Homo sapiens: one gene and its partners. The protein of the gene in region 3 purifies or fractionates together with the protein of the main gene of each other region. This does not show direct contact. Each region holds a gene or a part of one and is shown on either strand. Other genes may lie near its edges.

The links.
Region 1: the proteins of ASB7 (region 3) and NPAT purify together in Homo sapiens (affinity purification with mass spectrometry; 2 studies listed by BioGRID and IntAct, with this or other methods). This does not show direct contact.
Region 2: the proteins of ASB7 (region 3) and KIF13A purify together in Homo sapiens (affinity purification with mass spectrometry; 2 studies listed by BioGRID and IntAct, with this or other methods). This does not show direct contact.
Region 4: the proteins of ASB7 (region 3) and WDR75 purify together in Homo sapiens (affinity purification with mass spectrometry; 2 studies listed by BioGRID and IntAct, with this or other methods). This does not show direct contact.
Region 5: the proteins of ASB7 (region 3) and URI1 purify together in Homo sapiens (affinity purification with mass spectrometry; 2 studies listed by BioGRID and IntAct, with this or other methods). This does not show direct contact.
Region 6: the proteins of ASB7 (region 3) and KIF13B purify together in Homo sapiens (affinity purification with mass spectrometry; 2 studies listed by BioGRID and IntAct, with this or other methods). This does not show direct contact.
Region 7: the proteins of ASB7 (region 3) and TRIP11 purify together in Homo sapiens (affinity purification with mass spectrometry; 2 studies listed by BioGRID and IntAct, with this or other methods). This does not show direct contact.

What each region holds. Positions count from the first base shown.
Region 1 is NC_000011.10:108,170,304-108,174,675, forward strand, and holds part of NPAT (protein NPAT), read right to left. Parts: intron 3,549-4,372; coding exon 1,896-3,548; intron 1-1,895. UniProt on the Homo sapiens protein: Required for progression through the G1 and S phases of the cell cycle and for S phase entry. Activates transcription of the histone H2A, histone H2B, histone H3 and histone H4 genes in conjunction with MIZF.
Region 2 is NC_000006.12:17,830,029-17,834,400, reverse strand, and holds part of KIF13A (kinesin-like protein KIF13A), read left to right. Parts: intron 1-329; coding exon 330-440; intron 441-3,165; coding exon 3,166-3,300; intron 3,301-4,372. UniProt on the Homo sapiens protein: Plus end-directed microtubule-dependent motor protein involved in intracellular transport and regulating various processes such as mannose-6-phosphate receptor (M6PR) transport to the plasma membrane, endosomal sorting during melanosome biogenesis and cytokinesis.
Region 3 is NC_000015.10:100,605,570-100,609,941, reverse strand, and holds part of ASB7 (ankyrin repeat and SOCS box protein 7), read right to left. Parts: intron 236-4,372; 5' UTR 114-235; intron 1-113. UniProt on the Homo sapiens protein: Probable substrate-recognition component of a SCF-like ECS (Elongin-Cullin-SOCS-box protein) E3 ubiquitin-protein ligase complex which mediates the ubiquitination and subsequent proteasomal degradation of target proteins.
Region 4 is NC_000002.12:189,468,370-189,472,741, reverse strand, and holds part of WDR75 (WD repeat-containing protein 75), read right to left. Parts: intron 4,268-4,372; coding exon 4,173-4,267; intron 3,399-4,172; coding exon 3,303-3,398; intron 2,667-3,302; coding exon 2,497-2,666; intron 1,924-2,496; coding exon 1,864-1,923; intron 1-1,863. UniProt on the Homo sapiens protein: Ribosome biogenesis factor. Part of the small subunit (SSU) processome, first precursor of the small eukaryotic ribosomal subunit.
Region 5 is NC_000019.10:29,944,673-29,949,044, forward strand, and holds part of URI1 (unconventional prefoldin RPB5 interactor 1), read left to right. Parts: intron 1-4,372. UniProt on the Homo sapiens protein: Involved in gene transcription regulation. Acts as a transcriptional repressor in concert with the corepressor UXT to regulate androgen receptor (AR) transcription.
Region 6 is NC_000008.11:29,140,460-29,144,831, forward strand, and holds part of KIF13B (kinesin-like protein KIF13B), read right to left. Parts: intron 1,845-4,372; coding exon 1,698-1,844; intron 159-1,697; coding exon 9-158; intron 1-8. UniProt on the Homo sapiens protein: Involved in reorganization of the cortical cytoskeleton. Regulates axon formation by promoting the formation of extra axons. May be functionally important for the intracellular trafficking of MAGUKs and associated protein complexes.
Region 7 is NC_000014.9:92,012,560-92,016,059, forward strand, and holds part of TRIP11 (thyroid receptor-interacting protein 11), read right to left. Parts: intron 3,303-3,500; coding exon 3,137-3,302; intron 2,019-3,136; coding exon 1,656-2,018; intron 1-1,655.

The DNA of each region.
Region 1 (4,372 bases), on a different chromosome or scaffold from region 3:
TGAACCATGCTGATCAAGCATAAGACTCTACAGCCAAGACATCATATTACAATCATATCTGGATTCCTCTAGAAATAATGAAACTAGTTAGAAAATGAGTGGTGAATGTTTCAAGTCTGAACCTTACACCAGAAAATTACAACCCCAACTGAATATTTATACCCAGGACTACACTTGTAACCCCAACCTATTACATATCTCAATGGTATTGATCAAAAGGGGGTAAGGTAAGCACGTAACTGGTCAAAACTATGGAGGGAAAATTACAATGTCTACATGGTCCTCAGAAGTCAACAACATAGTTTGTGGCTACTGTAATTTAGTCCTGTCCATAAACAAACTTTTGCCTAATACACTACTGTCAGGTTGATCCCCTCATTTTCATGCAACCTACTACGGTCTCTCTGTCTATGCTGGTGCTGCTTCTCTTTATAACTTACAGATTTTATAAGTTATAAAAACTTCCTTGCTTTAACTCCAAATCCTACCTTCATTCTTTAAGCTTTAGCTCAAGCCCCACATTCTCTATTAATTCTGACCTCTCCTTTATGTAATTTGTAACAGCACGTAAAACAGACCCATTAGGTTTAATACTAATTGTTGATATTTAATGAAATTTTATTGTATGTCTATAATGTAACAAAAAGGGAAAAGAGGGAAGCTTGGGAACCAACACATAAGGAAATGTAAATAAATGTGCCATGAGCACTATCTCTGAGGAACATACAATAAAAAATTATCAATATGATAGGCATATCAATCACTAACTACATATAACACAGCACGCAATAAATGCCACAAGAGCCCCTATGAAAAAAGGATTTTTTTTTTTTTTTTTTTTTTTGGAGACAGAGTCTTACTCTGTCACCCAGGCTGAAGTGCAGTGGTGCGATCTTGGCTCACTGCAACCTCTGCCTCCCAGCTTTAGATTCTTCTGTCTCAGCCTCCCAAGCAGCTGGGATTACAGGTGCCCACCACCATGCCAATTTTTGTATTTTTAGTAGATACGGGGTTTCACCATGTTGGCCAGGCTGGTCTTGAACTCCTGACCTCGGGTGATCTGCCCGCCTCGGCCTCCCAAAGTGCTGGGATTACAGTCATGAGCCACTGAGCCCAGCCATAAACAAAGGATTTTAAAGACAGAGATCAATTAGAAAGGATTTTATAAAGGAAGAAATTCAAGTTTTTTTTTTTTTTTGAGACAGAGTCTCGCTCTTGTTGCCCAGGCTGAAGTGCAATGGCATGATCTTGGCTCACTGAAACCTCTGTCTCCTGGGTTCACGAGATTCTCCTGCCTCAGCCTCCCAAGTAGCTGTAATTACAGGCACCTGCCACCATGCCTGGCTCATTTTTTTGTATTTTTAGTAGAAATGAGGTTTCACCATGTTCTCGAGGCTGGTCTCAAACTCCTGACCTCAGGTGATCGATCGGCCCACCTCGGCCTCCCAAAGTGCTGGGATTACAGGCGTGAGCCACCATAACCGGCTGAAATTCAAGTTTTTCTTGAAAATTTCTCCAAAAAGATGATGAATTCCCTGAAGACCATGACTATAAGAGCTATTTTTAAAAACTCCCCCACAACATTGGGTTTTATACAACTATGTGATGAATTAGTCTGTCTTTTCTGTTTATTGTAACTTACTAGCACATAGATTGAGAAGTATTTGTGAAAAGAAAAAAGAAAAACCACTAAAGCCCATAGCTTACTAGCAGATTAAGAAAAATAAAAAAGGTTTGAATTAGCTAGCATAAAGAAGCAGCGTAATCACAAATTTCAGAATCTTTTCTCATACCATCTACTCATTAGTTATTACTTCGCAGTCAATAACATCACATACAAAAGAAATTAGATCCCAACCCAGAGAAACAAATTTCAATTATGTTATTAAAGTTACCTTGTGAAAAGTTTGGTGACACAGCTTGGTTGACAGCAAATACACTGTTTGACCTTGGTGGTGTCTGTAACTGAGGTGGTAGAGGTTGAGCAGTCATAGGTGCAGAATTTCCAGGCAACACCACTACATTAGACTGACTTACAGATGTTCCTAACGCTGTTGGATCAGTCACACAGGTAGCTATCAGAATGTTATTTGAATTGCCAAAAGCTGTGCTTGTGGCTGGCATCAACTGTATATATCCTCCATCCTTGGAAACACATGGTGTAACATTAGCTGAAAAAGCAATGCCATCTTCATTCTGAGTATTGTTTACTGCAGAGTCTTCAGATTTGAATGTTAAAAGACTCTGTTCCATTGAGGCTGAATCCCCTACTTCGGCATATACAACAGCACCTACAGTTTCTTCTGAAGATAGGCATTTAACTAGTTCTGCATTTTTAGTAGGTGATTTAGTAGGAGAAGACAAGATTATAGTTGGCAGGTTTTCTCCATTAATACTAGAAACAGCACTGGTAAGTTCAGTATCTGAGGAAACAAATGGATCATCACTAATGATAACTTTGAGAGAGACGATATTTGATGCATCTATCTCTGCTGAGTTGTTGCTAGAAGGTTTATCATCAGTATTTTGGGACTCAGGGTGAGAATCTCCCACTGAAGAACACACAGATTCTGGAGGAAGAGAGTGACTGTTTTCTACAGGAGTGCCTTCTGGAGGCGTCAGTGCAACTTTCTCACAGTTAGCATTTCCACCTAAAGAGAGAAAAATAGTATTCTCTTCTTTTACAGAAGATGAAGGCTCCTGTGAATTCTCAGACTTGGATGCCTGAGCTTCATTTTCTGTATGATTTAACTCAACAGATGCTGAATCATTAGATGGTTGTTTAGTAGAAGACAGCGAATCTCCAAGATGAATTTCTACTTGTCCAGATACATTTAAATGTGAACTTTCAACAGACACAGGTAGTATTTCACTTTGAAGACAAGAATTATCTTGGCAATTTGATAGCTGTGACATAACTGGTTCTAACACATTAATTTCTATTTTACTCTTGTGAACTTCACTAGAATCTGATGACTTGGAACCATGAAAATTAATTTTAAGTTTTACTGTATCATTAGAATTTTCACAAAATTGACTTTTTTTAGATGGCTTTCCAGTTAATGAAGTATCTTGGGATAAAAGTTGAGAACTCTTCCCAGAGAGAATTAAGTTTTCATTGTTAGCTTCACAACCAAGTGAAACAAATGAAGTTATTGGTATATCAGGCTGATCAGGCTGTAACTGAGATTCACTCGGTACATTTGAAGACAAAGAGTTCTTTTCAATCCCTATAGCCATTTCAGTTTCAGTGGACATCTGATTGGTGTATAATTCAGCACAATGTGGATTACATTCAGCATTAGAATTCCCTCTTTGGTTAAAGTCATTCAAATTAGGCACGGACTCAAAGGTAATGTCAATGTCACACTTCTGTTCAGTGGGTACAGCTGTTTTAAAGGCCTTTTTCTGTATGCTGGTACTTATTTGGGAAAAATTTTCCTGGTCTTCTTGTCTAAGCACATCATGGTTGTTGCTATTCTTCAAAGCATTTAATGGGTCATCATTCTGATAGGATGTACAAAAAGCGGGCTGACCAGACTGACCATCTGCAAAGTATCAGGCAGGTAGACAGATATGGTAAATATGTTCAGCTTCTGAGGTAGTCATTTTTGCCATAAAACTTATTTTGCCAAGAAAATAACTCATCTTTGCATACCAGTAAGTGGAAGTCTGATACGCTGTGTTTCCCATTTACTGAGTATCAAAAAATTTACAGGTACTTTCTAGTTACTGATGACTTTTTACACAAGTGTCAATTTGTTTTCCAAGCTTGGAAGACAGATGATACAAAGAAGGAAAAAGTAAAGAGGTTTAATATTTCAATAGGTAAAAAACATACTGGCTCCAAAAATGAAGTTTATTTTGAAACACTAACTTTTCAACTTCTAACATTTCTTCTGACTTTAATTTATCTACTGTCTCGGCCTCCCAAAGTGCTGGGATCACAGGCATGAGCCACCACACCCAACTTATCTGACATATTCTTAAAGGTGAGATGGGGCCAAGTACATTTTGCATGATTGACACTTGATCTCATTGTGTACTGTTTAACATTAAACACATATTTACTGAAGACCAACCATACTTGGTTACTGGGATACAAAGATGAATGATCCAATCTCTAATCTTGGAGAGGTTAGTCAAGGAACCAACTATAGAACAGAAAGTCATAAGAAAGCATGGTAAAAACTGTAACAGCATAGGAACAAAAGGTACCATGAGAAAAAATTATAAAGGAGGCACTGTATGAGAAGATCTTAAAAAAAAAAAAAAAAAAAGAGTATGATATGAGTAAGGAAAGAGTATTTCCTTTTTTTTTTTTTTTTGAGACAGAGTCTTGCTCTGTCGCCCAGGCTGGAGTGCAGCGGTG
Region 2 (4,372 bases), on a different chromosome or scaffold from region 3:
CTTAAGTAACCTTTTGTCCTGCTTATCTATTTCAAAGTTGAACGTTAGCATCTTTTAGGGCTTTAAATGTGAAATTTAAGTATAATGGATAAAATGACTAATGATTTGTTTCATTTTCATTCAGGACACTGGTATTTCTTTTTCAGGGAACAGCCATGTTCTCTTACATTCGTTTGATTAATAAAGGTTAAAAACCCACCCTAACAGCATATAACTTAATTTTTTCCAACAGACTATTGATAACTGCTTAAGAGGGACAGTAACTGATTGTCTTGTATATGATGGTGGAAAAATTTTGAACATCAGATATCTCTGATTTCATTTTAAAGGCCATGAAGGCCCCTGAACTGAAGGAGAAGCTCGAAGAGTCTGAAAAGCTGATAAAAGAACTAACAGTGACTTGGGAAGAGAAGCTGAGAAAAACAGAAGAGATAGCACAGGTAGCTTGATAATTTAGCCCTAAAATATTGGGATTCTTTTTCACTTATTGTCTTTTCTGTGTAGTTTGCTGTCATCTTCAGAAAGTCTTTTTTTTTTTTTTTTTTGAGACGGAGTCTCACTCTGTCGCCCAGGCTGGGGTGCAGTGGCGTGATCTCGACTCACTGCAACCTCCACCTCCCGGGCTCAAGCAGTTCGCATGCCGTAGCCTCCCGAGTAGCTGGGATTACAGGTGCCTACTACCATGCCTGGCTAATTTTTATATTTTTAGTAGAGATGGGGTTTCACCATGTTGGCCAGGCTGGTCTCAAACTCCTGACCTCAGGTGATCTGCCAGCCGCAGCCTCCCAAAGTGCTGGGATTACAGGCATGAGCCACTGCACCCAGCCTCAGAAAGTCTTTTAAGGGCCCTTTTCTGCTGAACCAGAGATTGCAAAGATCACTTTTTTTTTTTTTTTTTTTTTTGAAGACAAGGTCTCCCTCTGTCACCCAGGCTGGAGTACAGCAGCTCAATCACAGCTCTCTTGCAGCCTCAACATCCTGGGCTCAAGTGATTCTCCTCCCTCAGTCCCCCCAAGTAGCTGGGACCACAGGCATGTGCTACCATGCCCAGCTAATTTTATCTATTTTGTGTAGAGCTGTGGTCTTATTTTGTTGCCCGGGCTGGTCTCAAACTCTGAGCTCAAGTGATTCTTCTGCCTCAGCTTCCCAGAGTGCTGGGGTTACAGGCATGAGCCACTGTGCCTCGCCCAGCAAAGATCACTTTTAGACATTGACGTCAGGTCTTTTTATCAATGTACAGTTTGGCCTGTATATTTGCTAGACGTGTTAGATAGCACTAAATTTGAACAAGCATGGTTACAGAAAATGTCATTCATATTTCCTGCTCTTCACATTTAAACGAAAGTCTGCCTTGTGATTTTTTTTTTTTTTTTTTTTTTTTTTTTTGCAGACAGAGTCTCTCTCTGTCGCCCAGGCTGGAGTGCAGTGGCGCAATCTCGGCTCACTGCAACCTCCGCCTCCTGGGTACAAGCGATTCTTCTGCCTCAGCCTCCCGAGCAGCTGGGACTAGAGGCTTGCGCCACCACTCCTGGCTAATTATTTTTGTACTTTAGTAGAGATGGGGTTTCACCGTGTTGCCCCAGCTGATCTCAAACTCCTGAGCTCAGGCAATCCACCCACCTTAGCCTCCCAAAGTGCTAGGATTACAAGTGTGAGCCACTGTGCCCAGCCTTGTTTTGTGATTTTTAGATCACCTGGCAAAGCATGAGGCTACCTGATTTTTATTTTATTTTATTTTATTTTTATTTATTTAATTTTTTATTGAGATGGAGTCTTGCTTTGTCACCCAGGCTGGAATGCAGTGGCGCAATCTTGGCTCACTGCAACCTCCGCCTCCCCAGTTCAAGCTATTCTCCTGCCTCAGCCTCCCAAATAGCTAGGACTATAGGTGTGTGCCACCACAACTGGCCAATTTTTGTATCTTTTGGTAGAGTCAGGGATTCACCATGTTGGCCAGGCTGGTCTCAAACTCCTGACCTCAGGTGATCCACCCGCCTTAGCCTCCCAAGAGGCTACCTAATTGACAGAGAATTTGTAACGTATAGCATATCATAATTTTTCAATGTATTTGATTCTTTGGGCTTGTTAGGAAATGCTGTATGTTTATATTTTAACTTTTACTTAAGTTAAAATATAAAGGAAGGACTAATTCTCGGGGTTATGTGCATTATGAATTTCTCTACATTATATATTTCACGAACATTTTTAATCTCATTGATCATTTGGAAATATTGGACCATCCCAATCACGTAGCTTAACAGCAGTCACTGGAACCCAGTCCAGCCTTCTGCTGATGTGTTTCTTATAGATATCGTTCACACCCACACATACCCCTACACCTCACTCACTGTCCCGCTTAACATTGCTTTATGTTTCTCCATAGTACTTAACACCATTGGAAATTCTATGTACCATATTGACTTAACTGTTTTCTTATGGCCTGTCTCCTCCCACCAGAATATAACTTTTCATGAAAGACGGGACTTCATTGGGTTCAGTGCTGTATTCCCAGCCCGAGATCAATACCTACTACATTGTAGACTCTAATAAATATATCTTGAATGAATGAATGAATGAGTGAATACAAGGCCTTCCGCAGTAGAGACCCAACCTTCTCTTCCAGCCTTAACTCTCACTGCTTTCTGATATTTGCCAGGGGTTCTTGGCCCCTGAAATCATCTAGTATGTCCAGAACCTTTCTTTAGTGTGCTTCCGTATGCCATGCCCCAAGAACACCCTATCTTTATATTTCTGTTGAAATTATTCTTATGCTTCAAGAACTATCTCAAATATATCCTCTTTCTGCAGCCTTTCTTGGTCTCTTAACCCATCATGATGTCTCTCCTGGGAAGCCCCTGGCATTTTGTACCCTTCAATAGCACAACACTCTCCTCTTTTGTGCTCTAGTTATGTGGTCTTGTTCCCTCTACTAGATTCTAAGCTCCTTAAGAGCCAAAATGGTGTCTGGTTCATCCTTGGTGCCCCTATCACGCCTGCCACAAGATGTCATGCACTGTAGACTCTCTGTTAATGTGGTTGAGCAGAGTAGCATGTGTAATCCCATTGGCATTGTCCCCAGAAACAGTGACTTACTCTTTCCGTGGATACATCTTGTGAATAGAACAACAAACAGAGTTTCCTTCTTTTGTCTGTTTTTGTGCACAGGAAAGACAACGACAACTTGAAAGCATGGGGATTTCCCTGGAGATGTCCGGTATCAAGGTGGGGGATGACAAATGCTACTTAGTCAATCTGAATGCAGACCCTGCTCTTAACGAACTTCTGGTTTATTATTTAAAGGTAGGAGAACATATAAATACATATGCAATCAAGATTCATTCCTATACAGTTCGTAGTTGAATCTGGGTGCCTGTCTCTGTGATGTTGCTTTTTGTATCCAGCTTAGCCCTCAGTAAAACTAAGATGGATAGTGCCCTCCGATCACCACTGAGAAGGAAAAACAGCTATTTTGTATCATCTGGGGCTGTGCAGTTGGGGCTGATCTCCTGTGAGTCCAGGCTTCAGAGTGGCATAAGTGGGCAACAGTAGGTGTCGAGGTGATGCCTAGCTTTATGAGAAGGCTCTAGGTGTGAGATGGTGAGGATTCTGGGAATATCTGTGTTCTTCCACAAAGCTCCTGAGAAGCTCTGGAGGTTCTTAGTTATGCTTCTGAGTAATTCCAAGGAGATCTCAAGATCAACACAAGCCTAAAGGAGACCCTCGTCCTAGATTAAATAGACAACAATGTTCTTCTAGGTCTATCCCTTGTAAACCCACATCCTCAGGAAATAACTTTTGGTCCCATAATCACCCTTCAGGTGTAGAGGTGGGATGGGGCCGCCCTGTTGCCACTGTGGTCGCAGGACATGCCACGTTGGATAGCTTACTGTAGCATTTCTCAAATTTTCTGACTTCAGAACCCATTTACACTCTTAAAAAAAGTATCAAGGACTCCAAAGAACTTTCATGTGTCTGGGTTATATCCGTGTTTACTGTATTGGACCCTAAGACTGAGAACATTTTAAACTACAAACATAAACGTACAACCCTTAGCCCTCAGGGCTATAACATCATTACATGTCTCATAGACTCTGGAAAATTCCACCAATACACACACACATGATAAAATGAGAGAGCAAAGGCAAACAACATGTTCATGTTTCTATTGAAGTAGTTTTGACTTCATAGGCCTCCTGAAAGGTTCTCAGAGACCCCGGGGGTTCTCAGATCACACTTTTAGAACTGCTTGCTTACTCTGCAAAGTGAGAAATAAGATATCTGATTGACATTGATTTAGGACACTGTGACTGACATAAGGCATTCAGCCAACCATCAGGGCATTTTTAATCTCACACATACACACACTTTCTGA
Region 3 (4,372 bases):
TCTTTAGTGAGTGGTGTATTTAGTATACATTAACTGATTTAAGAGAGAAGTAAAAGTTAAGTGAGCTTTCCCCCGGAACAACACAGATGACCAATGACCCTGAGGCAACTTGCCTTATGGAAGAGTGTCCCTTCTCCTGATGTACGGATTGCCTAGTAACCATTGTGCACGTACAGCATCGTGGGGAGGGGCTTCAAAGTACGTCCAGGCTACAGAGCAAAAAAGCCTTCTTAACCTAGAAACAAATAAAAATAACAATCATAGGAAAATTCCTTAAAATAATAATCATAGCTGTCTGCATAGTCTACCTTTTGATGAATGTAAACTTCAGTGCTTTACAATAAATCTATAGAGCAGAGAAAGAACTCAGATCAACTCTTACAGAAAATAATCTTGTTACATATGTTCATCTCCAATAAATACTATTTAGTTTCAGGCTTTTCCCCCCAAAATGCAGCTATTTGAGAAAGAGCAAATAAAAAAAATAATAAATCACATATTTGGAATTTGGATGCAAGCATAGATTCTTCATTTTCCTCTATTGAGAATACAGTTTCAGACTTGCTTTATCTGAATTACTTTTTAACCGACACCATAAGTCACCTGCACTTTCTAAACAGGACTTAAATGAGAATACGTGTGCATGAAATATAATAGGTGGCCTGGGTTAAAATAAAATCTATGACAACTAAAAGGAGACTGTGTCTTTAAATGCATTTTCTTCATGTGCCCTAAAGGCATCAAGTCAATCACTTTGAAATTGTTATTCCTTTATGCATACACCGAACTAGATAAAACATTAACAACAGCCTTGCCAGGTTCCCCATGTGAATTCTGAATAAACTCTCTCCACAACTAAAAGAAAAGGGATCTTTCTTCGTGTCAATTAAATTCCAGCTCTGTTAATTCCAACAAAGTTAAGGACACAAAGTGACTTCCACATAAAACTCTAGGAATTACATATTGGGAGAACTACTACCTCATCCCCTGACGGTGGGTGAGCATCACTTAAACCTTCAGACAAGAAAAGGTCGGGCCACTTAGCAACCTGGCCCGCAGCAGTTGTATGTCCTGCTGGCTGCACACCAGAATTTTCAACCAATCCAAATTGGTATAGTCCACTTCTCTCTTTTCCTCTATTCTCATCTACTTTTCCTTGACAAACCTCTTCAAGGAAGGTAAAGAGTTTGCCAACTTGCCCTTGGAAATAAAATTTGTTTTAAAATTCTATTATTATTTCTAAATAAATGAGGCCGACGAGATCAGAACAACTCCTACAAAGCAAGCTGTGAAACATGCAAAGCGATCCTTATACAAATGGCCGATTCTAAGACTGGAACATCACACGGTGCCAGAAAGCAAGGAGGTGCTCAAAGAAAGACACCACGGTGGGGGAGGTCAAAGGGACACAGGAGCCAACTGAAAGATCCCTCAATAGCCAAAGAGGGAATAACTGCAGCAATACTTAAAACAGTACCAGATGACAAAGTACAAAGTGGATATCAAGAGTTCACATTGATACAAATAACTGATTCGATAAATAAAGGGGGAGAAACACATCTGTTGTTCAGAATTCCAAATAATTTGTATAGGTAGTCTCTCCTCAAGGTGGTGACAAACATGTTAATATAAGATGTTAGTAGGAGAAACTGAGTATCGAGCATGTAGGAACTCTGCACAGCCTCAGTAATTGTTCTGTAAATCCAAAGCTTTCCTACAATAAAGTTTATTTTAAAATGCAAATCAGTGTCCCCAGTGATGAGCCTCACACATTGCCACAAATGAATATGCCACCACTTTTCACGAGCTACATCTACATTTCAAGAGTGAACATCACTGGACATCTCACTTCCAAGTGTGTCCTCAGCACCCCTTACTTCCCATAAGAAGTAAACATGACCCAACATAGCTTCAAGCCTGAAGAATCCTTGTGGTTGTTGCTGGCTTCCAACTATCCACCGCCACTTCCATGGAGGCAGCTGGAAGTGTCAGGGAAGACGGCATGAGAGCTGAGCAGAATAGGAAATGGTGTTAATTTATTAACAATATCAAGAAAAGGCCTGGTGGTAAAAGATGAAGTGGCCAAACTATTTCTCCCAACAAGAAAGATTCACAGGTGGTAGCAACTTGTGCTAATTCCATATGAGCTCCTTCAGTCAAACAAACAAATGTCTACAGAATGCTTGACACTTAACGTGGCACAGTGATAGGGTTTGGCCACAGGTAGCACCTCCAGGTGGTATTCCAATAGAGTTCTGCATACTTAAAATGAATTTTTTAAAATCCCAGACATTTTAAGATTATTTTTCTCTTTTCTGAAAATACCAAGTGCTATAAACAATAACCACAGGTTTAAACCAAAAAAGTACTCCCTGCATGTACTAGTGCATCAACGTTTACCAGAAAAAAACATACACACACGTCATGCACACATGATCCCTGTCAGCTACACTGCTTTGAATTACGACAGAAAATAATTTATTACAAAAGACCCCCAAATAGTCAAAAGCATCAACAAGTAATTTCCTCCTGGTGTTACTTTATGAGAGCTGCGCCTGACAGAGTCGAGTCACGTGTATAAATGAAGAAAAGACTATGGAGCTGAAAAGCAAACACAATATCTAGTGGTAAATATGTCTATTAAAAAACAACAGAGGAAGTCCAGAGATGAGAATGGAAGAAAGCCTATTTTCCCTCAGGGAGTTTATTAAAAAACTGATAGCTCATGGAAGTCACCTATAAAAAGAAAAGGAATATAGCAAAGGAAGTAATTTTCTTTTTTTTTTTTTTGAGACGGAGGCTCGCTCTATTGCCAGGCTGGAGTGCAGTGGTGCGATCTCGGCTCACTGCAACCTCTGCCTTCAGGGTTCAAGCGATTCTCCTGCCTCAGCCTCCTAAGTAGCTGGGACTACAGGAGCGTGCCACCACACCCGGCTAATTCATGTATTTTTAGTAGAGACGAGGTTTCACCATGTTAGTCAGGATGATCTCGATCTCTTGACCTTGTGATCCGCCCGCCTCGGCCTCCCAAAGTGCTAGGATTACAGGTGTGAGCCACCGCGCCCGGCCAGGAGGTAATTTTGTAAGTTATGTATGTTTAGTTATGTTTTTGTGGACTCAGGAGCTACTGATACTCTGAGGGTATGATCTTCAGAAATTTTATTCTAGCTTTCACAGTCACAAGGAAAAAAAAAGCAAACAAACAAGGAAGACTTTCTTTTCCACTTGGGGTCAAAAGAAAAGAATCTAGGCTTCCAAGCTTTAATACTATTGACCATATTAAAAACTACTAATTTAGAAATTCAAGTACATTACCATCTAATTTCCATATAGATGCCAAGTGAAGTTCATTTAGTTAAACCCAAAACTTCTTGCTTCACATAGTTAAGTCTATATGATAGAACAGCGTGAAGAATAAAATAAACATAAAACAAAATATGCTTAAGACCTGTCCGAAGTTACAAAACCTTCACCAAATTTGACCATATTTCCCAAATCTCCTTTGGCATAAATGATTAGACATTAATGACTTTTTGCATATTATTATCATTAAAAGTCCACACATTTCTGATTAAGTGATGCAAACTGAACTGTGCTTTCTGATGTCACATAAACTTAGCAACAAGATAATGGCTTATTACTCAAAGAAAGAAATAAGCATTTCTTTGCAAAGTAAACAAAAATACATGCTGGTAAGAAAATAAATGCAATCAGCAACTCCGACGACATTGGGTCTGAGAAAAAAAAAACAATCCTTCAATGGTTCACATTCACAAGATCTAAGAGGGAAGATGGATGGAAAAACACTACACGGCCGTACCAAAACGGAGAACATGGCTGAGATGCCTGTTCACAAGCTCTACTGATATGATCAGGAGCCTGGAACCCAAAATAAGGTATAAGTGTTATTTTAGTGTCACTCAACAAAGTATAGCATAGTGGTTATGATCCAAAACAAATAAAGGTATTAGTATTTCCTCCAAATTACTGGGCCTCCATATAACATAAGGATTTATTACCATGCACAACTTATCCATGACCCACATAAATTCCAGCAGAGAAACCAATAATTTTCATGAAGTGTGGATGAAGCAACAGAAGAAATTTTGGACTTATCCAGACCCAACTCAAAGCTTAAATCACAAGTATTATAATGATGAGGTCCTGTCAATATTATCTTATTAACCTAGGTCTGCCAACACCATCTTTGTAGCCTCATGTGTCAATTCCTAGAAAGTTTGCAAGAAAGGAGACAATCATCCTACGTAGGGAGGGCATTCAGGGGATTATGATGTGGAAGGCTGAAAGTCAGGTAACAGATATGCCCATATAAATCATATCTGGCTTTAGACTTTTTAGGGATGGTGTGTAT
Region 4 (4,372 bases), on a different chromosome or scaffold from region 3:
AATAAATTAGCTCAGATAGTGGAAGCCAAGGGATAAGTTCTGCACAGGCAGAGAACTTCCAAGTGGCTTTTTAACCCACTTTTAAATCCAAAGACAGCCAAGAATCATCAGACTCTGATGAAAACCTCTAGATGAAAGGCAGCAACCAAGACAAACCAAAAACAAAAAAAAATGTAATGGAAACAGACCATGAAAAAGAAAAAAAGATTTGATGATAAAGATGAGGAAATCTTCCAGAAAACAAACAAAAAATAGGCAAAACAATAAGAATAATAGAGAACCATTCTAGAAAGTCCAGCACTAAATAATAGGAGTTCTAGAAAAAGAATAGAGAAAGAAGTAATTAGCTCCTCCTTAGTTCTCTACTCAAAACTCTCCAAGGGGCCCTATATGTAACTCAGAGAAAAAGTCAGAATCTTTTCAATAAGGCCTACGTAGACTTCCCTGTTTAAAATTACAAGCTGCATCCCATGCATGCCATCTTTTCGTCTATTCTCTACCCCACCACAATTCTTACCACCTTCTCTACTCCATATTTTACTTAATGCATGTTGTTTACTGTCTCTATCTTCTGGTGGACTGTGAATACCGCAAGTTTAGAGACTTGACTACTTTTCTCACTACTGTATCCCAACTGTCTACAATGGTCCCTGGCGTACAGTAAATAATTAACAAAAAATTATTGAATTAATCCAATGAGTTTTAAAGGAAAATAAACAAGCCAAGTTACAGACAAAGGAACAAGAACAAGAATGGTATTGGTCTTCTAGTAATAATGGAAATTATAAAATAATAGGACAATAATGTCAAAGTTCTGCGAGAATGATTTTCAACCTACAACTCTATAATAATCAAGTGAAAGAGAATAAAAACATTTCCAAACATGCAAGGTCTTAAATTGACCTCCAATGCACTAAAAGAATGCTTCACCAAAACAGGGGAGTGACCAAAGAAAGAGAAAAACCACACCACTAATAGAGTAGAGGTCAAACAAATCCCCAGAATGATGGTGAATATAGATCCTAGGATGACTACTGTGTAGCAGGTTTCCAGAGCAATCAGTCCAGACTGAAGACAGTCAGAAGGCTCTTGGAAATAATCCTTTATGACTTGAAAGAATACCTAATGTATCTGAAAACACTGAGAGAATACTTACACAACTTGAGCAGAATTTGGGGTTGAATTACATGAGAATAGAAAACTAAGCAAATGAAAAAACAAGGCAATCATTAACTCCACAGAAAATAAAAACTTGGTCACAAAAGGAAAAACAATCTGCCTATTACTACATGGCTTGGCTATGAATTGTGTTAACACAGCTATGACAATGACTACTGAACTAACCAATTTAACATTTACCCATATGGGGAAAATTGGGGGACAAGTAGGGAAAGTGTGTGTTGTGTATATGCAGGGAGTGCTGATGTGAAAAACAGCTAAAAATTCAGCGTCAATAGATCAGAGTTAACAGATAATACCTAAATCTGAAAAACCTATAATTAGAAATATAAACATTTCTTAGAGATTTCTTAGAGATTCAGAGTTAAATAAAAACTTCAGCTAAAAGATTTGAGAGTGATTGTCTTTGTGGGTAATGGTAGTGGTGTTGGAGAAGTTTTTTCTGAAGAGCCTTGTAAAAATATTTGACTCTTTAAATCAGAATTATATATTACTGATATTATAAATTAAAATAATTTTAAAAGAGCACTAAAACTTTCAAGAGACACATATCAGTTTATAAGTATATGGCTTTTAATTCTATTTTAGGGCCAAGTGAAATATTTTTTTCATAGTTGACTTCTAAAAGGTAATTGTATCCTTTTAGGGAGGCAATACATCCTGCTATGAATGGCTAAAACATACCTGTTTGCTTGTTGGTGTGAGTTTTTCTTCTGGAGACTTTGTACTGAATGTCAATAAACTCTGAAAAGAGAGAATTAATGATGCAAAAGACAAACTGTAGAGTGCAAATCTAAACAAGGTGTTACAGGGTGTTAAAAAATGAGAAGGTCAAATTTTTCACTTTGATATATATATTTGACAACAGAAAAGGAATAAAAGATTTAAACCTATTTAATAACCACGATGAGAGTTACAAGATTATGTCTGAGAGATACTTAAGAAATGGTAATGAATAAAAAATATAACTGACAGACAAAACTCAAGCCACCATTTTAAAAATTGCAAATCAAACACTGAAAAAAAAAAGAAAAAGAAAAAAGAATCATGCAATTTAAAGTATTTTAGTTGTCTTCTGCTTTTTTGCTGTCACAGAGTTAATACAAGCAATACCTAAGGAACCTCAAAAGTGTGGGGTAAAACGGTAATACATTTACATTAATAATGCTGCTGTACTGAGCATATTAGACAATTTTTTGGGAAATAATCCTTTAATGAAGCTGTTTCACCTAGAAACAAACTCACACCAATAGTCATGGGCTATTAGTCTAAAATTCCATGTACAAAGTGATCGCCTTTTTTGAGGGAGGCAGTTACCTGTGATTTTGTTAGGAAGTAAAACTGGGATCTATTTAGCCACTGGTAAGCTTCTGAGGTGAAGGATTCAGGGACATCTCGTGGAACAAACACTCCCCACTGGACTTTCTCTCTGGAGATACCCTTTTGAATATACAATGGCCTTGGCTCACTAGGTTTAAATACAAACACTAGAGGGAAAAAACAAAGAAACAATAACATTTTGCCTGAAAAGGTTAGTTCTAGCCTCAGACTGGCAGATCACACTAATCCTGGGACTCACCCCATTGAGTAACTGGCCCAAGTCATGACTGTTTTAGGCTTTGATTCAAGAGGTATCTACTGTGTTCCTACTATGGGCCAGGCAGGTTAGGAATGAGGGCTATGAGGATGAAAAACAGAAAGAAGAATTCGTGCTCCAGAGGCCAGGGCCCACTGCAGAAGACAGAAACCAAAATATTATTACAGTAGTATTTTGTCTGTAAGTACTAGAAATGAGATATGTAGAAACTGCTTCAAGAACATAGAGGATGACCAATTAAAGCTTCTCAGGGGCAGTTGGAAATATGTCAAACTGGTGAAATCTCTTGAATTTTAAAGATTGAGTACGAATTGGCTTGTGGAAAAATAAGAAACATATTGGAGCTCTCCTAGAACTAAGTATGGACGCACACAATGACAAAGTGTTGGGGCAAAGAAGGGCCGTGCCTCAAGCAAAATGGCTTCCAATTAACATCTGATGTGAAGGCAAGTTTGGCTCAAATTATATTAAGAAGAAAACTTAGGTCATAGATGTTCTCTTACTACAAAGTGTGGTTTGTACTTACAGTCTGAACCCACTGAAGACTGAGAGATTGCAGCAATATTCTCTGAATTAGGATCGGGTTCCATAACTCTAACATTTAATTTTGCATTCCACTCCACTGAGGGGAAAAACAAAGGTGATTCACTTCTAAGGAAAGATTTACCAAAAGCTTTAAAAAACTTCTCTTATTCTTAGGAAGAGGAATCTTATGCTTCCAACTAACACACATGGAGACACACTGAAATGATTTGTAGAATGCTGCACTAAAGTGAGAGGCCGAAAGAAAAACATACTGGAACTGTAGTGCTCCTTGTACAAACTATGAAAAGATTATTATTTCATTGAAATTTATGTCTAGTGCTTTTCTGATGCTGCTAAATGTGTACAGTATGTTAACCAGAGTTAACTGTAAAGAATACTGAAAAAAGTTACCATACACATTCATTTATAAGCAGCTACTATGCCTTCCAAACATACACTCAAATGGGTAAAATGCCACTAAGTTCACATTTGTTAGGACTGTGATAGACTACATTTGAATTTAAGCTGTCAGGGATAATGTAGATTAGTAAGTATTAAAAATGAGCAGAAAACATTATTCAAATTGTTACGAGGATGGGGAATATGGAGGGCATCAGAAAGTCACACACACTGAAAACAGTAGAAAAAGGTAAGGATAATGGAAGCTGACGTACCAACAATTAAGCAGTTAATAAATAATGTCTATTACAGGCCCAGTATTCCAAATTTTGGTGGCATCATATGTCACGTAAAAAACTGACTATTCCAAGTACAGACCTGATGATATGATCCCTAAGTCCTAAAATGCCAAAGTTTAATGTCAACTCCTTATGCGCTTTGCCAGATCACTTTAGAGTAAAAAATATCTTACATGCACAGCTCAGCAGATTCCAACAGCAAAGAATGCCATTTTCAGTAGCACCAAGTAGATACTTTGAACACGTCAATCTCCCAAAGCAAAGGTGCCTAGATTAAAACCACAAGGAAGTTAGCAACAGTCAGTTCTAGCAAATTCAGTTACAAAGAACTGCAGGCTTCCAGCGGCTGTTCTATGTAATGCAGATTTTTATA
Region 5 (4,372 bases), on a different chromosome or scaffold from region 3:
GTTGTGTTAATGTTAATTCGGCACACAAAATAACCACGTATATCTGTCATGGGTGTGTAAAATTATCCCCAGTTCAGGAAAAAGCGCGTCAGTATTTAATCTATCTTTATTTAATAGAAGCATTTGCTTCAGTGGACAGGAGACCCACAAGGCCACAAAATAAACTGATTAGATAGCTGCACTGTAATTATAGTGTAGTACAGGAAAACTACCCAGTAAATCGGCAGTGAAAATTTTTTGTGAAGCAATTTATTTAGGCTTTAAAGCTGGCCCAGTTGTGGGAGTACAGTGAGTTCTAGTAAAGTAGAAGCGTAGTGACATCCTGAGTGTAGAAGGGGAAAATGTCATAGTAGCTTCATATGTGGCACTTAGTATTCCTTTATGAAAGATGAATCAAACATGCTTTTAAGCTCTTGGCCTTTCCCTACATGGGTTTTGTGAGACAGAGTTAAACTCTGCAGAAAATGATTTGAATGACTGTTCTCAGTTTTCCCTGAGAGGGTACCTACCTAGTTGGCTGTAGATGCAGAGAGAGAAATGAGTTCCTTACACACAGTGGGTGCCTTAGGCTTAGGGCATAATCTTCTCTGGGAGCCTTGATTGAGAGGGGCTGGTAGGTAATGTGGCTTAAATGTTGCTCATTAGTTTTGCTCTTTCTTTTTTTCCAAATTCAGCTAAGGAGTATAACAAGTTTTACGCTCTCTCTCTCTTTTTTTCTTGTATGTTCTCTGGAACATGGAATAAAAAGGACAAAAAATTGGCAACCTGAGGAAGAGGACAGACAAGGGGCATGAACAAGCCACAACCTCTAAGTGACAATATCTGTAGTCAGCGGTTAGGATCAAATATTTTAACATTGCTTTCACTTACAGTCAATGGTGAAACATTTCCAAAACAATTTATTTTAGTTAGAACTTCGGTTTGTTTCTATTTTGATCTAGCAATAAAACATGTAAGAAACATTCCCTGCAGCTTTGTTTATAAAGAGAAAAACTAAAAGTCTGACATTGGGGGATTGGTTAAATAAATCAGGAGCTGTTACGTAGGCATTGAAAACTAGGACAGTATGTATAGGGTGGTTCCAGTTACGTTTATATAAATATTTACACATTTTACATAGGAAAACACCATTGTTTTAAAAGTACACAATTTTATTATTTTACCTAAAAGTTTGTAAAATTGGATGGGATTTTTTTTTTTCCAAAAAAAGCTATTGATAAAACTTATTTTAATTTTAACGAAAATTGGAATGTTACTTTAATTGCAAAACACTTTCTGAGCCTGAAAAATGGCTCTTGGCTGGTTTGAATGCCGGTTAGGCAGGTTTATTTCTTGGTTACTTCAGAGCTGATATATATAATTTATTCAAACAACCATCTTCCAGTTGATTTCCTTCCCCCCCCCAAAGGTTTTATTTAATCTTCATTTGTTATAAGATACAGGGAGAGGAGAGAAATTCAGATCATCCTTTTTTTGTCTTTAACTAAATCTGTTTTTACTAACAGCAGTAAAATATTTGTTGGAAAAATGGAAGCTTAACCTGTCTAGACTGTGACCTATACCATAAAATGTGTGGTCTAGGACTGTTGTGGAGTGTCTTGGGCTGTTCAGGGAGGTTTCCTTGTACTAAGATCTTGTTAAATCTGATTCTAAGAATTGCATTATGTTGAAATTTTTGTTTCTTGGCTAAGGTGATGTTTCTGAGATACCTGTATTTTATCTCTAGATACTATTAGCTTTTATTAGCAGAACTACTGAGATTTTATTGTAATATTTTAAAAAGTGGTGGATCCAGTATCGTTTTTATAGGCTTATTTGCAGGATAATAGTAAGATTAGAAAATTCATTAGGATAATATATTTATAATTGAGTGCCTCATGTAGTTCTCACTTGGAATTTTGGAATAGCTTATACTTCCTGATATAGATCCTTGGGGAATTAAATGCATTAAGAGTAAATATTTTAAATTTTTTATAAAGCAGAACAGCTAATTTAACTTAATGGAGGGTTTTCATATTTCTTGTGATAAACTAAACTGCACATAGTTTAAAGAACTGTCAGCCACGTAGGCCATATAACAGCTATTCTTTCCAAGCCTAGAATCCATGCCATAGAATTTATGTAACAAATATTTAATGAGTATCTACTACATGCCAGGCATGTTCTGCTGAGTGTGCAGTAATGAACAAAATACAGCAAGTTCTTTCTTTCATGGTTACACTCTAGGGGTGAAGGCATGCAGTTACATAGCCTTACCTTGGGTGTTTGGTAGGTAAGGCTAAGTAGAAAAACAGGAAGGTAAGAGGCGTGTAGAGAATGAGGGATGTGAGTGGAGGGATGGTGTCTTCTGTAAGCCATCAGAGAGGGCTTCTCTGTTAGGTTCCATTTGAGCAGAAACTTGAAATAAGTGGGGAGTGAGCTGTGTGGATATATGGAGGATATTTTAGAGAAGAGCTTTCTAGCCAGTATGAGAGCAGTACCAGATCATTGTAAGAGTTTTGGTTTTCATATTTGTGAGATGGGAAACGATTGGAATGTGTTTTGAGGCTGATCTTAAATTATATCCATTTGTCATGCATATGTGAAGAAATGGACGGATGGAATTACATTATAGGGAGCAACTCTGTGTGCCACGCATTGTGATAGATGTTTACAGATCCGATCTTAGAATTTTCATTAATACTGTTTATTTTTCAGATGAACAGTTTGTTTCTAGTTTTTGCCTGGAACTTTCTCATGGCGTGTTTGTGTCTTCAGTTCCACTTAGAATGCTTTTTCTAAGGTGGTTATACCAGTTTACCGCTTGCTAGCAGTGGACAGAAGTTCTCCCTGCTTCAGTCTTTACCACCATGTGTCTTTTCATATTTGCTAGCCAATCTAGTGATGAGTAATGAGGTTGATGACCTTTTCAGATGTTTATTGGCTACTTGGATTTTTGTGTTTTGTTTTTGTGAAATACCTGCTCATCTGTTAACTACTTTCTATTGGGATGTTAGTTATATTCTAATTGATTCATAGTAATGACTGCCTTTCCAATTATATATTGTAAGTTTCTTCCCTGGTCTGTGGCTTGACTTGGAGCACTTACAGTGGTGTCTGTCCTTTGATCAACAGACATTTTTAATTTTAACAATTGTTTCCTTCATGGTTAGTGTTTTTTGTCTTATTTTTAAGAGGTCTTTCTTACTACTTTTCTGAAGATATCCTCTTATATTGTCTAATAGAAGCTTTACTGCTTTGCTTTTCACATTGAGAATCTACATTCTACCTGGAATTGGCTTTGTATATGGGGGAGATTGAGGTCAGGTTTCATTTTTACTGTATGGATACCTAGTTGTCCCATCAGCATTTATTGGAAAGAGTGTCATGTCTCCACCGCATTGTCATCTTTGTCATAAATCAGGTGACTGTGTAAGTAGATCAGTTTCTTGACTGTTCTGTTGGCTTGTCTGTTCTTGCAGCAAACCTACACTGTCTAAATCATTATGACTTTGTGTTATCTTGGTACCTGGTACATGGTGGTGTAGTTTTAGTTGTGGTTCCTCAAGATTGCCTTTATTTTCTCCTTTCCAGTCCGTATGCTGTTTCTTTCTTTTTCTTGCTTTTGATACTGGCCAGTTCAAGTGCTGGTAGTGGGCATCAGGGGTCAACTTTTAAACATTTACCATTAAGTGTGGTATTTACTGTGAGTAATTTTTGTATTTGCTTTTATCAGATTAAGGAAATTTCCTTATATTCCAAGTTTGCTATGAGTTTTTATGAGTGGGTGTTGAATTTTAGAAATGCTTTTTCTAAATTGATTTAATTATGGTAATTTATTGAAAAGAGTATATTTGTTCTGTAAGTTCTGTAACTTCAATAAGTAATGTTGAAGTTACTTTTTTTTGCCTTCAAGCATCTGTTTAACAAAGCACATCTTGCACCACCCTTAATCCATTTAACCCTGAGTGGACACAGCACATGTTTCAGAGAGCACGGGGCTGGGGGTAAGGTTATAGATTAACAGCATCCCAAGGCAGAAGAATTTTTCTTAGTACAGAACAAAATGTAGTCTCCTATGTCTACTTCTTTCCACACAGACAGCAACAATCCGATTCCTTTATCTTTTCCCCACATTTCCCCCTTTTCTATTCGACAAAACCGCCATCGTCATCATGGCCTGTTCTCAGTGAGCTGTTGGGTACACCTGCCACACGGGGTGGCGGCCAGGCAGAGGGAGTCCTCACTTCCCAGAAGGGGCGGCCGGGCAGAGGCACCCCCCACCTCCCAGACGGGACCGCGGCCGGGCGGAGGCGCCCCCCACCTCCCGGACGGGGCGGCTGGCCAGGCGGGGGCTGCCCCCCGCCTCCCTCCCGGACGGGGCAGCTGGCCG
Region 6 (4,372 bases), on a different chromosome or scaffold from region 3:
AAACCAACCTCTCCTTTCTGGTTGATGATGGGAACAGCGTATTGTAACTTCACATCATAGAAAAGTGACTCGAGGAAGACATTGGCCACCCCAATGAGACTGTGATTTTCCTGCTCATCATAGAATGGATCAGCACGTTTGAAGTATGATCGTATTACCTGTAAAGAGATTGAGAACACACAACTTCAGAAAAACCATTTACAATAAATGCATTCAACCTACTGCTTTTTGATGCACTCTAGGTTATTAAACTTAACTTTCATCATCCTAACTCTTGTATTTTTTAGAGTAAAACATTCTAAAGTTTTTGCTAAAGCACAGCGCTGTATTACTCCCATACACACTCTTCCTCATTCCCATTCACAATGGAGGTGAGCATCCTCCACCCATGACAGAGCGATCCCAGTAACAGGTCATTACTTTTATCAGCTATTCTCCTTTACATGGAAATTTTGCCACAAAATAAACAATATATGTTGACCAGAAAAAGAAGTAGAGTGTGCTAAACTACACTTCACCTTTCTTTTGGGAAAGACAGTAATTCTTATCTGCTCTGCTTATTCCTAGCAAGTCATCAGATAAAACTGCTGCTAATAAAAGGTGAGCCCTCACACCTATAATCCCAGCACTTTGGGAGGCCAAGGCAGGCGGGTCACCTGAGGTCAAGAGTTTGAGACCAGCCTGCCCAACATGGTGAAATCCCGTCTCTAATAAAAATACAAAAATTAGCCAGGTGTGGTGGTGGGCGCCTGTAATCCCAGCTACTCGGGAGGCTGAGGCAGGAAAATCACTTGAACCCAGGAGGCAGAGGAGGCAGTGAGCCAAGATCGTGCCACTGCACTCCAGCCTGGATGACAGAGCAAGACTCCATCTAAAAAAAAAAAAAGGTGAGCCCCTATGGGAGTGGCTCTTTCATTATTTATTACTGTTGTTTTATTTCTAAGTTGAAATAGGAGAGGGGTACCAAAGAGACAAACATGTTTTAAGCAAAAACATCACCTAACTATAAGAAACATTTTTATTGATAACAATCTGGAAAAATCATTTTTACAAAACAAAAGGCAAAGGAAGTAAACAACTCTATGCGGAAACAGGTCTAACGGTAATGAAAATATGTTCAGACATACATAATATGCACTTCTATTTTAAATACGTATGAGTACATGGCTGATCTAAGTAAGAAAACCTGCAAGTTAAGGACAGAGTACCAATGTATAGATTTATGGCATTTATGTTATGATCAAAACTTCTTCAAAAATGCTCCTTGGAGTGTAAATATTAAGATACCACCGATGTTCAACTTACAAAACATATATTGTAGGTTTATTATCTGCAAGGTTAAACGGGTTGAGCAATGGGAGGAGAGACAAATAATGAGGCCTGGCCTCTGTCCTAAAGAGGTTCCCAGAGAGCACAGGAGACAGACACCCGCACACCAACAGAAGTCAGAATGGAAAGTGGAGAATTCTGCTAGAAATCTAAAAGACAGAAATGAGAAGAAAAAAGAAGATACCAGAAAGAGAGATTATTAAAATTGTTAATTTGCTAAACAATTTAGGGGATTAAAATAAACCTTACTCCAGAAATAGGATTATAATTTTGGAAAAAGAACAATTTTCCCCTGAAATGGGTAGACTCATTCCAGCTTGGCTCCTTCCATAATTACCAATTAAGTGATTTTCTCTTAAATAACTTACTGGGTTATCTTCTTCACACTCTTTCCACTCCTGATAAAGGTCTCTCATATCCAACAGCCTGTTGTCCAGTTTTTCCAAAGACCAAATCTGCTTTCCTTTTCCTTTTCTTCTCACCTGGATTGCAGGCTCACTAAGAAGAGAGCCTCGCTGCAAAGAGAGTAAGAATGACCGTGAGAAACACACAGGCAGCGGGGAAGTCAAAGCTGACAATTCCACCCCCATCAGTCAAATGTCATTACACCAAAACTCAAATGGCAATCATCCTTTAATCTGTTGATTACAAAGCCTCCAAAAAGTCTTACAAGCTATAACATAATACCTTCCTACCCAAGTGCAATCAAAACCTATTTATAAACTTCACTTTAAGTATAAACTTACATTAAAAATTTTTTGGGGGGAGTTGCTGGGCATGGTGGTTCACGCCTGTAATCCCAGCACTTTGGGAGGCCAAGGCAGGTGGATAACTTGAGGTCAGGAGTTCAAGACCAGCCTGGCCAACATGGTGAAACCCCTCTCTACTAAAAATACAAAAATTAGCCGGGTGTGGTGGCACGTGCCTGTAATGCCAGCTACTTGGGAGGCTGAAGCACAAGAATTGCTTGAACCCAGGAGGCAGAGGTTGCAGTGAGCTGAAGTCTTGCCACTGCACTCCAGCCTAGGTGACAGTATGAGACTCTCAAAAATAAATAAATATATACATGTGTGTGTGTGTAAAGAGACAGCATCTCACTCTGTCACCCAGGCTGGAGTGCAGTGGCACGTCATAGCTCACTGCAGCCTCGAACTCCTGGGCTCCAGTGATACTCCTGCCTCAGCCTCCCAAGTAGTTAGGACCACAGGTGCATGCCAATACACCCAGCTAATTTTGTCTGTTTTGCATAGAGACAGGGTCTTGCTATATGGCCAAGGCTGGTTTGGAACTCCTGGCCTCAAGTGATCCCCCTGCTTCAGCCTCCCAAAGCACAGGGATTATAGGCATGAGCCACCACATTTAAATTTTGACTGTAGTTGGAAATGATTTTAAGTTTAAAACCCAAAAGACCACATTTAACAGCAAGTTGAAATAAAAGTATTTTATTCAGGCCACCATATGACCACAACGTTATCAATGGGGAGAGAGGGAAAGTTTGCTGCGGTGTATGGGGAAGAAACGTCCCTCTCAGAGGCTGAATTTTGTTTTATTGTAATGGATGGCATCTTCAGGGGGTATAAAACATGAAACACTTAAAAGAGTAAACTGAAAAGTCCCCGATTCACCCACGTGGAAGCAATTAATGATACCAGTTTCCAAATATGCATTGTTTGGGTTTCTTATTAAGATCATACAGAACTAGATGGAAGCGGTGCTCACACCACATTATTACCGTGCCAAATGCCACTGAGTTATTCACTTTAAAATAGTAATGTTTGGCCAGGTGTGGTGGCTCACGCCTGTAATCCCAGCACTTTGGGAGGCCAAGGCAGGCAGATCACAAGGTCAGGAGTTTGAGACCAGCCTGGCCAATATGGTGAAACCCCGTCTCTACTAAAAATACAAAAATTAGCCAGGCATGGTGGTGGGCGCCTGTAGTCCCAGCTATTCAGGAGGCTGAGGCAGAAGAATCGCTTGAACCCAAGAGGAGGTTGCAGTGAGCCGAGATCGCGCCACTGCACTCCAGCCTGGGCAACAAAGCAAGACTCTGTCTCAAAAAAAATAATAATAATAAAATTAAAAAAAAGTAATGTTCTATTATGCAAGTATCACACCTCCCCCCCAAAAAAAGTATGCTCTGAAGTTTTTCCAGCTTATAAGAGCAATGTGGATTTTTTTCAGAGTAGAACTTGAGCAATGTGTTTTTAATGTAGAAAAAATTTTAGAACTTTTAAAAAACCACAAAGTTAAAAAAAAAAAAGCCCCTATACATTTCCCCGAGGGAGACATATCTACTGGTTATCTAATCAATTTAGGTTTACTGGCTTAATTTTTCAAATGTTCTACTTAAAACTGAAGAGAACTTTGAAATACATTGATGTTTCATTAACATCTTGCCTACAATCATTTTCTAAGAAAAAAATTTAAATAATAAAACAAACATTTGAGAATTCTTACGGTCAAAATGCGTGTGTGTGTTTTTTTTTAATTGAGACAGAGTCTCTTTCTGTCGCCCAGGCTGGGGTGCAGTGGCCCAATCTCGGCTCACTGCAACCTCCGCCTGGGTTCAAGTGATTCTCCTGCCTCAGCCCCCCAAGCAGCTGGGATTACAGGCGCCTGCCACCACGCCTGGCTGATTTTTGTATTTTTAATAGAGATGGGGTTTCATCATATTGGCCAGGCTGGTCTCGAACTCCTGACCTCAGGTGATCCGCCCACCTTGTCCTCCCAAAGTGCTGGGATTACAGGCATGAGCCACCATGCCCGGCCATCTTACAGTCAAAATTAAAGGCCCTCCTACCTTATATTCAGCCAGCCAGTGAATAAATACAAAAATCCCATTTGTGACCTGTGTGGGTAGTGGCTTTCCTGGGGGAGAATGCTGGACCTGGGACTATAATAGCAACGGGCAATATGGTGCAGCTACCATAACTTAGCCCTCTTGCAAAACTGGAAATAAGAAAAAAATTCACCAGAGAAGAGTTCACAGAATGGACAGGACTTTAAACAACTTTTCAAATACCAAAAAATAGTCTGTTGCACG
Region 7 (3,500 bases), on a different chromosome or scaffold from region 3:
AAGTGGCAGTGCTAGGTACTTCTCAGTGGAGGTTAATACCTGCACTGAATCAATATACTGAGAGTCGGCTAAAAGAGCCATAGAGACACTCCACACAGAGAAAGCAGAAAATGCAAGGGTAACAGAGTGAAGAGGTAACATTGCTGCTTTAAGGAGCTATAGAAAATTCAATATGGTTCAAGTTTAGAATGTCAGGAGCATGGGAATAGTTGAAACTGAAGAGATAGGCAGGAACTAGATCATGAGAGACATTATCATGTCTAACTAAGAAATTTAAACATCATCCCGAAGTTCACAGGCAGCTATAAAGTACTAAATGCAGGGGAGTAACCTGCTTTGCATTTCTGACAAATTATTCTGGCTGCAGAATGAAAAAAATAGATTGAAGGAATCATGGAGAACAGAGAATTTTAAAAGCTAACTCTTCAGCTGGGGGCGGTGGCTCACGCCTGTAATCCCAGCACTTTGGGTGGCCAAGGTGGGCAGATCATGAGGTCAAGAGATCGAGATCATCCTGGCCAACATGGTGAAACCCTGTCTCTACTAAAAATACAAAAATTAGCTGGGCGTGGTGACACATGCTTGTAGTCCCAGCTACTTGGGAGGCTGAGGGAGGAGCATCACTTGAACCCGGGAGGTGGAGGTTGCAGTGAACCGAGATCGTGCCACTGCACTCCAGTCTGAGCTACAGAGCGAGACTCTGTCTCAAAAAAACAAACAAAAAAAAAGCTAACTCTTCAACATTTACTATTGGCTAGACACTATCCTAAAGAGCGGCAGAAAGTAACTCATATAATCCTCATTACTAAAACTACAAGGAAGATACCATTATTATCCCAACCCTATAGATGAAATAACCAATGCATAGAGATGTTAACCTGTCCAAGGTCAGCTAATTAGTGATAGAGCTCGATTCCAACCCAGTCATGTCCTTAACCACTACGCTATTCTGCTCCATTCAGAGAGCTGCCATAGTTAACATAGGCAAAAAGCAATTATGACTGGCTGAAGTAATTCTGTGTCAATGGAATAGAAAAAAGAGGAAGGACTAAGGCAGTGGGTTTGTCTTTTAAGCACATAAACTCATCTGGATCACCCAATATGATAAGTAAGTAAATGTATTAGTCTTATGTAAGTAAATTTATTTTTTAAATAAGTAAACTTATTTTTTAAAACGTAAGTACAATTACTTTAAAATTTATTTTATTTACTGGTGTTTGGCCTATTTCATTTAGTACTAATTTTCTGTAACACAGAATACTGGTACAGTAACTAAATATCATCATGAGCATAGAAAATGGTGGAAGACCTATGGCTCTAAGCACTCAGGGCTTTGCTTGGATATAGGAGATCGTTTCAAACAGGTAACAACTGACTTTGAAGAAGAAAGGCTGTATTCCCTAACTGGAGGATGTGGGCTGTGATGAGTTACAGAAAGTATAGCAATACCTAATCCTTTTTAATAGGAAATTCCTATTTGCAATCTATTAACTCTTACACTGAATCCAAACCACACAATTCTACCCAAATGACACACAGTCATTTCCAGGAATATGCCATTTCCACTAAGTATTCAGTTAGTGAAGCATCTGTCTCTAAAAACAACTACTATGCAATGAAACAGCAATCTGAAATAAGTTCCAAAGACTGTATACCAGACAGTGCTTGTTGTAGTCTGAACACTTCTTCCACTGATGCACTCTGGGCAAGAATTCTTTCCTTTTCTGTCATAGTATCACTTTGCTTCACAGCAGAAGGCTGCAATTTACTACATTCCAATTTCAAGTTTTCACATTCTTCCATTATTTGTCTCTTTTCCACATTTAGCTGTTCTTGTTCTCTCCTCAAAATATCTCTGTCATTTTCTGCAGAAGATAATTTTTTATTTATATCTTTTATTTTATCCTCAAGTTGTTCCATTTTTTTGGTAGACTCCACTTTTTCTATTTGTAGAACTTGAATAGTTTTTTGCATCTCATAGATTTTAGAGAGATCAGTTTCTATAACTCCAGAGCCACCTAGAACATAAACACAAAACAATGACATCAAATGTCAAGTACCAAGAAATAAACGGTTTGCTATATACAACTAAGAGATATAAGACAGTTCAGAATTTGGAAAGCTTAAAAGTTAAATTACTATAATAAACTAAGTGTTTTAAAATAAATAAGTTGGGGGAAAATATTTGAATCAACTACATAAAGGCCTATGTATCTTAGTTTGAAAGAAAGTGATAATATCTCTAATCATTTATTACCAAAGTATCATCACCAAACAATGCAAAGAAATCTATAAATTATAACTATTTACCACAAAGGTAAAAAGGACATTTCCATTTTCACAGAATTTTTTTTTTTTTTTTGAGATGGAGTCTCACTCTGTTGCCCAGGCTGGAGGGCAGTGGTGCCATCTCGGCTCACTGCAACCTCTGCCTCCTGGGCTCAAGTGATCCTCCCACCTCAGCCTCCTGAGTAGCTGGGACCACAGGCGAGCACCACCACGTCCAGCTAATTTTTGTATTTTTAGTAGAGACGGGATTTCGCCATGTTGGCCAGGCTGGTCTCAAACTCCTGGCCTCAAGTGATCCACACACCTTGGCCTCCCAAAATGCTGGGGTTATAGCCATAAGCCACCACTCCCGGCCACAGAATCTTAAAAGCAGAGGTGCCACTGCAAATTTCTGGCAGATAAGCAGAACTAGTCATTTACACTTCCTTATAACTTAGGGCAAGTTTACAGCACTGTCCTGGTCTTAGAATGCTAGGTCTATCATTTAGTTATGTCATCTAATATGTTAAATTAATAAAACTATCAACTGGCCAGGTGCAGTGGCTCATGCCTGTAATCCTAGCACTTTGGGAGGCCGAGGTGGGTGGACCACCCGAGATCACGAGTTTGGGACCAGCCTGGCCAATATGGCGAAACCCTATTGCTACTAAAAATACAAAAATTAGCTGGGCATGGTGGCAGGCACCTGTAATCCAGCTACTTGGGAGGCTGATGCAGGAGAATCGCTTGAACCCGGGGGGCGGAGGTTGCAGTGAGCCGAGATCGCGCCAGTGCACTCCAGCCTGGGCAACAGATGGAGACTCCATCTCAAAAAAAATAATAATAATAAAGAAATAAAACTAATAACCTTGTTGTAACAGATTTTCAAGTTCTTCAATTCGTTCTTCATAGTCACTTAATTCTTCTCGATGTCGTCGACTTATTTCTGTCAATTTCTGTTGGTGTGCATTCTGCAGTACTGACATTTCATGTTGATGGTCATCAATTTCCTGACTTCGGTTCTGTTTTAGTTCCTTAAAAAATAAAAACAAAGTTATTCACATTTATAATCAATAAATTTATGTAAGCTATATATTTAACTGTTGTCCAAAAGTGTGCATTATTAAAAAGAATTCTCAGAACATGTTAAGGCTGAAAAGAATTTAAACACAGACCCAAAATTAGGACTATTCTGAACAACTTCACCCTTTCCTTTCTTAGGTCTCAAAAAC